Regions from separate parts of the Homo sapiens genome. Here region 2 is linked to region 1. The links come from fine-mapping of genetic effects on gene expression. Tissue or cell type: blood mononuclear cells. Region 1 holds a variant in brackets; the other region holds the start of a gene. All regions are shown on one strand. Distances are from middle to middle.

Region 1 (4,407 bases):
GTTGAGCTTCATTTATTGGCTATCATAGATAATATGAATATTCATACATAAATAATTCTGTGGCCGTGTTTTCATTCCTCATGGTTAATACCAAGTAGGGGAATTGCTAGGTAGTTTGCTTAACTTCATAAGGTGTTGCCATACTGTTTTTCATTAAGGTTTCACCATTTTCCATTTTCAACAATAGTGAATGAGAGTTACAGTTACTCTACATCTTTGCCAAAACTTGGCATTTTCAGTCTTTTTAAATTTGAAGCATTCTGGTAGGTGTGTTAATGTATCTCATTGGGGTTTTAATGTGCATTTTCTGGTGACTACTGATATTGCACATCCTTCCAAGGGATTATTATTCATTTATATATTTTCTTTTTAGGAGTGTCCATTTAAATATTTTGCCTATTTTTAATTATGTTGTCTGCCTTCTTATCTCTGATGCTGATAACTGCATTAGCATCCCATTGTATAGAATCAGTCTCTATATTAATCTGTTTTCACGCTGCTAATAAAGATATATCCAAGACTGGACAATTTACAAAAGAAACAGATTTAATGGACTTACAGTTTCATATGACTGGGGAGGCCTCACAATCATGGCAGAAGGCAAGGAGGAGCAAAGCACGTCTTACATGCGTGGCAGCAGGCAAAGAGAGAGCCTGTGCAGGGAAACTCCCATTTGTAAAACCATCAGATCTCATGAGGCTCATTCACTATCATGAGAACAGCACAGAAAAGACCCACCCCCATAATTCAATAACCTCCCACCAGGTTCCTCCCACTACACATGGGAATTGTGGGAGTTACAATTCAAAATGAGATTTGTAAGGGGACACAGCCAAACCATATCAGTCTCCTACTGATGGACATTGAAATGGTTTTGAGTATTTTTACTGTTATTAGCAGGATTTAAATTACTGAAGTACCTTTCATTATTTTTGTATTTTGGTATACATTACCAAATTTCTCTTAAAAATGCTTTATTTATTTGCTTGTTTTTCTTTCACAAGGGTCATTCTAACCTTCCAACAATCATGCTTTCCTTTTTTTTTTGCAAAGAATACATCATAAGCATCTTTTCAGTTTAATAGGTATATATCTAGATACGAAATTTTGATGGGTGCTTAGCCATTCATTGTATAGATATGAGATAATTTATTTAACCAATTACCTTTAGATAGATATTTAGATTGTTTCCACTTTTTCACTATTACCAACAGCACCAGAATGAGCATTCTTGTTCATACATATTTTTCCACTTGTTTAATTTTTTAGGATGAATGCCTTTTGATACATATTCTTTATTATGTACATATATATGTACATATTCATTTGACAGACTCTCACTCTGTCACCCAGGCTAGAGTGCAGTGGCACGATCTCGATCTCACTGCAGCCTCAACCTCCCAGGCTCAAGTGATCCTCCCACTTTAACCTCCTGAGTAGTTGGGACTACAGGTGCGTGCCACCATGCTTGGCTATTTTTATTATTATTTTTTGTAGAGACAGGGTCTCACCATGTTGCCCTGGCTGGTCTCAAACTTCTGGGCTCAAGCAATCTGCCAGCCTCGGTCTCCCAAAGTGCTGGGATTACAGGCTTGAGCCACCAAGCCTGGACCCCTTTATTTTATATTAAAATGTTTTATATTTGTTTAATGATTTCCTTGGCTTATAATCATTCATTTACATTACTACAGCCTCTGTAAAAACCTGTCAAAAAGGAAACAATAACATTGTTTTATGGCAGAAAATATTGGAAATATTGATAAATAATAAGCAAAATATTGTCACCCAGGGAAGCGTCATAGTGTTGTACCAGCTTCATTATAGGAGATGCTGAGCAAGACCTTTGGCCTTTATAATATTCTTTCCAGAAAATCATGAAGTTTGGTAGAATTATGACCTCCTTAGACCCTCAAGATTTACTTTTTAATAAAATGTGGGCCATCTTAAATTAGTTTATGCAGAATTCTTTTAAAAGATAAGCAAAAATGATTGGGAAGATTGTTTCCAATAAAATAACAACTGGAATGAAATTAGAGTCAGATAATTTATAAAAGAATTATATTAGGTTCATTTCTCTAATTGTTAAAATGCATTGGATTAATTGAATTTCTGCTGTAACGTTTCTTCTTTATTAGATCAGAATTGACCAGAATTCATAGAAGTAGACAATAATAAGAATACTTTCATTAGCAAAAGACAAAAATATACTTGTAATTATCAAGGACAAGTTAGAATATTTTGTTTTGGTGAA[T/C]ATCTAGTTAAGATAATTTTTAAAAATTACTTTGTGTATAAATAGCATCAAAGCTTAATAAGGAAAGGGCTTTTCAAAAGTCTTTTTAGTTTTAATTAACTTATGCTTGCATTGAAGTCTAGCTACATTGTGGGTTTAGTAGAGTGGAACTATTTTTGAATATCTGCCTGCTAGTTGCATGGTCATATTGACTTTCTGTGGTCCCTTAAGATATCCTCTTTGCTGTCTCTTCGCTGCTCAGGGCCCATTTTAAAGCCTCATCTGTTCAAATTAGAATAACATGTTCCATGACATCTTTTACACAGGCAAAATTTATCTAATCTTCTTTTTCTGGCTTCCTCAGAGATTCCATTAGCATTTTTCACTAATTAGCAGTAGATGGGGTTAAGTTAATCAGATAAATTAATTTCTGCTACAGTCTTAAGGAGTTAGTGAGTTGTCCCACCCAAGAAGATAAGGATTGCCTCAACCAAACTAAAATGTACTAATATAGGTGAAAAGTACTTCTTCAAAGTGTGAAATTTAAGACAAAGAGAAGGTATTTCTAGGACCTCTATTGCTTCTCCCATCATACTACTGTTATTGTTTATAACAGAGCCTGTTTTAAAACTGGATCTGTTCAGTTATTGGGGATCCTTCATTGCTGGTCCTGTCTCTTAGCCCAGTGAATCTATCATAATCTTAGCAGGGAAATTTGTGGTCTGCTATACATAAGGTGAGCAGTTCCAATTTGCTCTTATTATTGCAAAATAATTATTTAATATGTCTATATAGATCTGGAGAATGTATTAAATTTATGATCAGGTGGAATCTTGACTGGGTTTAAATACTGATAGCCAACAAAGACACTCATTTTCTAGAAATGTTTGAATATTGTACAAATACATTCTGGTTCTCCTTTTGGGAAATTACAACACTTTTGTGAAAACCATACTTTACATTTCCATGGGACTTGACAGTATATTGTATTTTCATAAGCATTCTTTAATTTGAAGTTCACAATAGGTCAGTGAGTCAGACAAAACACAAACTCTCATTCCCACATAACAGATAGAAACACTGAATTGATTTGTCCAAGTCTTCCCAGCCATTTATTGGTAAAACTTATGTCCTCTGTCCATTCAGTGTCATTCAACATGTTAAGTGACCAGCAGATGTGAGATTATTACATTCTGATACATAAAGAGTTTCTCAAGGGAGGATGCTTGATTTCATTTCCTCTCCCTTTTCTACATCCAAAGGAAGAAAGTTCTTGGTAAGAATCATGGCAAACCAAGTTTTTACAGTCATATCTATTGGGTAAATTTTTAAAAAATCAACTAGTTATCCTGATTCTTTTGATACCACATATTCAGAGATTTGGGAATATATAAATTATCGATTTACTTTCATCCATTTTAACCTAAAATAGATTCTGCATTTGTCTAAGACCTCTGCACAGTCACTTTGAAGTGGAGATGTTTCAAGGATTAATCTGTGAGGTGTTACTTTAGTCTACAAACATTTGTTGAACAGCTTCTGGTAGCAAGAAAATAAAACAATGTAATGGGGCAGAAAATGATGGGGCTGGGTACAGGATTGGAGGTTATTTTAGGTAGGATGGATTGGGATGGTCTCTTGGAAAAAATGATATTTTACCCGAGCTCTGAGTGATGCAAAGTGAGGACAGTATTACAAGCAGGTGGAAGAGCAAGCACAAAGGCTCTGAGGCAAAGGCCAGTTTGGTGTGTTCATGAAACAGAAGGGCAGTGTGACTGGAGCATAAAGGGCAAGGAAAGAATGGTGTGATATAGAGTCAGAGAAGGGAGGTAGTGGACAGATTACGTAGGGACATATTTGGGTCTTATTTCAAGTGCAATAGAAAGTCACTGCATGATTTTAAAGGAGTGTTTTGGGAGGGAAAATATTATTTGGAAATTATTTGCCCTTATCACCCTTTTGTCTTAAATGAAAAGAAACTTCCTAATTCTTGTGGAGTTAGAGTTAGGGTTTAGGATGTAGAATGTGGTGCCACCATAAACTTGGCCTACTTGACCCTAGGTACCTACTTCTCTACCAACACCGATATTGGTGATCCTAGCTTAATTTTCCCTGCATATAGGGCATTTCTCAATGTATGTTTCTGAAATGTCTAAGGTCACTCTGGTGGACTTTTT
Region 2 (4,407 bases), 110 kb before region 1:
ACATTATCATGTAAAATCTGCCCAATTTCAAAGTCCTCATCCAGGATAGCATCTTCTCGTGGTTCCAGCTTCCCAATCATAGGAATCTCAGGAGGACTAAAGAAGTTGAAGAATGATGCATTAGGAACCACTCTTGGCTGGATTTCAATTTCTCCAGTAGCAGTTGTGCGACTCTGGGTAGTTGTCACAGTAACATCTTTTCCTCTTCTCCAGTCTATCTTGCAGCCTTTGCAATCTTCAATTTCCCATCCCCAAGAAAAGAAGGGATCATTGTGATCTGGTTTTGCCTTTATTATATATGTCTTCACCAGCACCTCATTTCTGAAGTATGGGTTGGGTAGAAAATGAAATTCAAAGGTGTAACTTACAGGCTGGCCAGGTTTTGAGAACTTCAGGCTAACATCCGACAAGAACTTCAGAATGGGCTCATCATACTTCTGAATCATAGGCCCGAGCTTGTCAACATTCTTTAAAACAATCAGCCAATAGTCAGGAATGCCTTTAGGGTCTTCTCTTTTAGGCTTTCCCTTCCTAGCTCTTTTAAGATCTACACTGTCCTGAAGCCTTTCCTCAGGAACTCTTTTATGAGTCTCTCTTACTGCAGCCCTTGCCTTAGCCTCTGTTGCTTTAGGCTGTTCTTTATCATCTGCCTTTACCTGGGGGACTTCTTTAGGATCTTCTTTTACTTCAGGGGTTGCCTCCATACAGTCTTTAGAATCTGCTTTTTCTTCAGCCTTTACCTCAGGAATTTCTTTAGGAACTTCCTTTTCTTCATCCTTCACCTCAGGAATTTCTTTAGGAACTTCCTTCTCTTCAGCTTTCACCTCTGGGTTTTCTTTAGGGTTTTCTTCTTCCTCACCCTCTAAGGGAGGCATTTCACTAGGGGTGTTATCCTGCACCTCCTCATCACTGCTGAACTCCTCATCCTCTGAATTCCATTCACATTCTTCTTCTGTAGGCTCGTATTCTGCATTGATGATTTGAAACCGCCTATCATACAGAGGCTTGTTGAGTTCAGCATATTTTCTTTCAAGATCATGAATTGCTTTTAAGAACAGGGTATCTACCTTGTCACATTCATCTTGAATGTTTCTAAGCGCTTGCACACGATTTCTAACTGCCTGAGGCAGCCTATCCACGAAATTTGTTCCCAACGGGGCCCGCCGCGCCCTTCTGGAAGGCTCAGGTACCCTCTTCTTTCTATACAAGCGGCTGCGGCTGCTAGTGCTGCCGCTGCTGCTGCTGCTGCTGCCGCTGCCGCTGCTGCTGCCACTAGTGCTGCTGCTGCTGCTGCTGTCACTAGTGCTGCTGCTAGAGCTACTGCTGTCAGATTCTTCCCCAGAATCACTAGTCGAGCTAGCCATCTCCTCTTCGGCAACCCCATGGGCGACAGGTTCCGAGACCATTTTAAAATCTGCTTCTGCCATCTTGCAAGCCTACAAACTCTACCAGGGAGACCGCGCGACCAGAGATGGGCAGAAAATGACTCACGGATGCTTGAGTGGCGGCGGCGGAGGCCCGGGCTGCGGAGGTGGCAGCGGCGATGGCAGCAGCGGCGCAGAGCGGAGCTGGAGCTGGGGATGCAGAGGCCGGCGCTGAGGTGGCAGCGGCAGTGGAGGCTTGGGCGACAGCGGTGGCGGCAAGGCCTCTCCCGGCTGCAGCTAGAGTGCCGAGATGTACCGCAGCCGAATGGCGCAGTATGAGACCCCGAGATCTCTTCTCGTTTTAGATCGCGAGCCCCCTCCCCTTGCAGTCAGACCTCCCGTTAATTTCGTTCCCAGTGTGCCTTTAGTTCGCTCCTCATTTGCTGGTCCACCTTAATTGACAAACTGTACGCCCAACGAACGGCCAAACGCCACTACTCCTGGCTCCGCCCACCTTCCCAGACGCCGCTCGCTGGCTGAGGTGCGACCCCTTGGAAGGTGTCCCCCTGCCCCCCAAAAAGTCTATATTTATAGTTTTATAATTAAAAAAGAAAAAAAAGCGTAGACATGAGGTAAAAATACCAGCCATAGTTCCTAACAAGGGCAAAAGAGGCGTGTCTTCCTTCTCCCATCCGCCCACCCTGAATTCCCGTTTAGTTTGTCACGGGTCTCTTGACAAAAAGCTGTAAAAAAAAAAAAAAAAAAAAAAAAAAATTGAATGAAAATGGTCCAAATGGCGTCATTGGGTAGTGTGACTATGGACGATTTAAAAACAAAACGATTTTCTCTAAATATTCTATGAGCATGCATTTTTACACTGGATAAAAAAGGGGAGAGTCGGTTATTGGCAGAGGAGGGAGGGACTAGACAGCAGGCGTATTGCATTCCACGAAGCTGATTTAATAAGTGCTGTCTGTGATGTTTGGCAAGCCTGGTTTATATCCATCTACAAGGTTTGCGAACCCATGTTGCCGTGAGTCAGTTACACCATTTTTATTATATTTCTCTTTTTAGGCTGGCATATTATATACCCCAACCTTGCTGCTAACTTGCCACGTAGCCCTTCTCAATGCTTGTAACAACCTTGTAGATAAAACAAAGAGGTATTAAATGTTAGGTAGTATTGTTAAAAAGCAAATGATTTGCGTTATACTTTTGTGCAGCAGGTTTCAATTCCAAGAACAGTGGGATGGGAGGGGGAATTTGTGCTAATGAATGTGCATCTTCTGTCAGTGTATGCGATGTCATCTGCCACCAATTTCCTTCTAATGTTGTAAAATTCTAGCCATACTATAGTATGATTTACAAGTCCAGTAATATGTGAATAAACTTTTGCAAAATGAAGTTTAAAAACGAGTATTTGTTATTTTTATTTACAGGATTTTTTTTTCTGCTACAGAACAACTCCCTTGGTACAATAAAAAAGACGAGTATTTACTTTTCATTGAAAGGTAAGGATCATATTTAGCACATTTTAAAGAATGACAAAAATTACTCATCTCCATCTGAATAAAAGTTTACAGGATACAGTCATTTAAAGATTTATTTTAGAGAATTATCTTGATAATTCTATGGAAACAGGAAAATCCACAGAGGTAATTTGGCATACTAATGTAGACAATTACATACTTAACCGCATTAACTATCTAAACCTGGTCATAGAATACAAGTGGTAAATTAAAATATGAAATATGATAAATTATTCATTTCAAATGAGGAAATGTATTAAAGTTAGATTAATCTTTATAGAATTTGTGCTTTGTCATGTAATCACGTTTTTTAAAAGTTAGGAAACGCTTTTCTGTTTCATAAATGCATTTACTTTTATTGTTTATCTCTAATTGTCAAAGTCTGTGAACATTGCAAAGATAAAACAATATAGAAAATTCCAACAGTAGTAAAAACACAAAATCTTAACCACCAAATGATAAGAATTACTAGCATTTTGATGCACTTCCTTCCAGAAATTTCCTTGTGCATATACATACCTGCCTATTTATGTATACTGCTTTATCTATGTGACACCATATTATGTTTTGTAATCTTTTCATTTAATTTATCAATTACTAATGGCTATATTTTCATGGCAAATGATCGACATCTTATTTTTAAGTAAGTGCATATTCCATGGAAATAATTGCCTTAATTTATTTGACCAGATTCCTGTTATAGGGTGGCCATTTCTATACCATCTCTCCCCTTAAATACATACTATTTTCCTGCTATAATCAAAGTGTCCCTGGATACCTAAAGCATGTATTTCTATGCACTTGTGAAAATTGGTCATAAGATAAATTCCTAGAAATGGATGGCTTGGGGATGATCATTTCATATTATGAAATTATTATTGTATACATATTGCCAAACTCTCTGCAGAATTATTATCACAATTTACAGTTCCAACAGTGCATAAAGTTCATTTTTTTGTTATTCAACTAATATATTTTTGTGCTTGTCATATGCCGGGCAAATGTGGTAGAGGATTGTAGTATAATGGTGAATGAAATTTACTAAGTGCATATCCTTTCGTTGAATAATTTTAATCAAAACATATGTTATAGAAACAATGATTTACGTCATTGATGTTATACCATAAATATTGTTCTGAAACTTACTATTTTTATTTTAAATTATGGAGATTTAAAAAAATGTATGCTCTTATGTTTTAAACTTTGTAGCATTAGGAATTAGTATTTTAGAGTCAGTCATGAGTTAGGGATCCAGATTTTTAAAATATTTATTTTTATTAGCTAGCTAATTCTTCTAGTACCATTTATTTGGTAATCTTTCTATCTCCTGCTTACTTGAAATGCTATTTTGATCACATTAAATAAATTGCTTGGGTCTGTCTCTAAATTCTTTTCTGATCCATTGGTCAGACGTTTGCTGCAAACAACTAATGAGTCGGTTTTAAGATAACTTTACATTTTGTGAAGATGATATGTGTTCATTGATAAAGTCAGGCAATACATTGAAATACAAA

Evidence for each region. PIP is the estimated chance that this variant, and not a neighbour inherited with it, causes the effect. A credible set is the group of variants that fine-mapping cannot tell apart.
Region 2: NAP1L3 starts here. The variant in region 1 is the best candidate, but not a certain one, in a credible set for the expression of NAP1L3 in blood mononuclear cells (TOPMed, PIP 0.78).

The regions. Positions count from the first base shown.
Region 1 is chrX:93,778,424-93,782,830 of GRCh38, forward strand. No RefSeq gene overlaps it. Among named protein-coding and RNA genes, the nearest start is that of FAM133A, 110 kb to the left of the region's middle. The variant T/C (reference allele first, on the strand shown) is at 2,252.
Region 2 is chrX:93,671,878-93,676,284 of GRCh38, forward strand. NAP1L3 (nucleosome assembly protein 1 like 3) reads right to left here and starts at 1,701. Exons shown (of 1, transcript NM_004538.6): 1 at 1-1,701. The coding sequence starts at 1,427. It overlaps FAM133A (family with sequence similarity 133 member A), which reads left to right and starts at 2,329. Exons shown (of 4, transcript NM_001171109.2): 1 at 2,329-2,397; 2 at 2,804-2,875.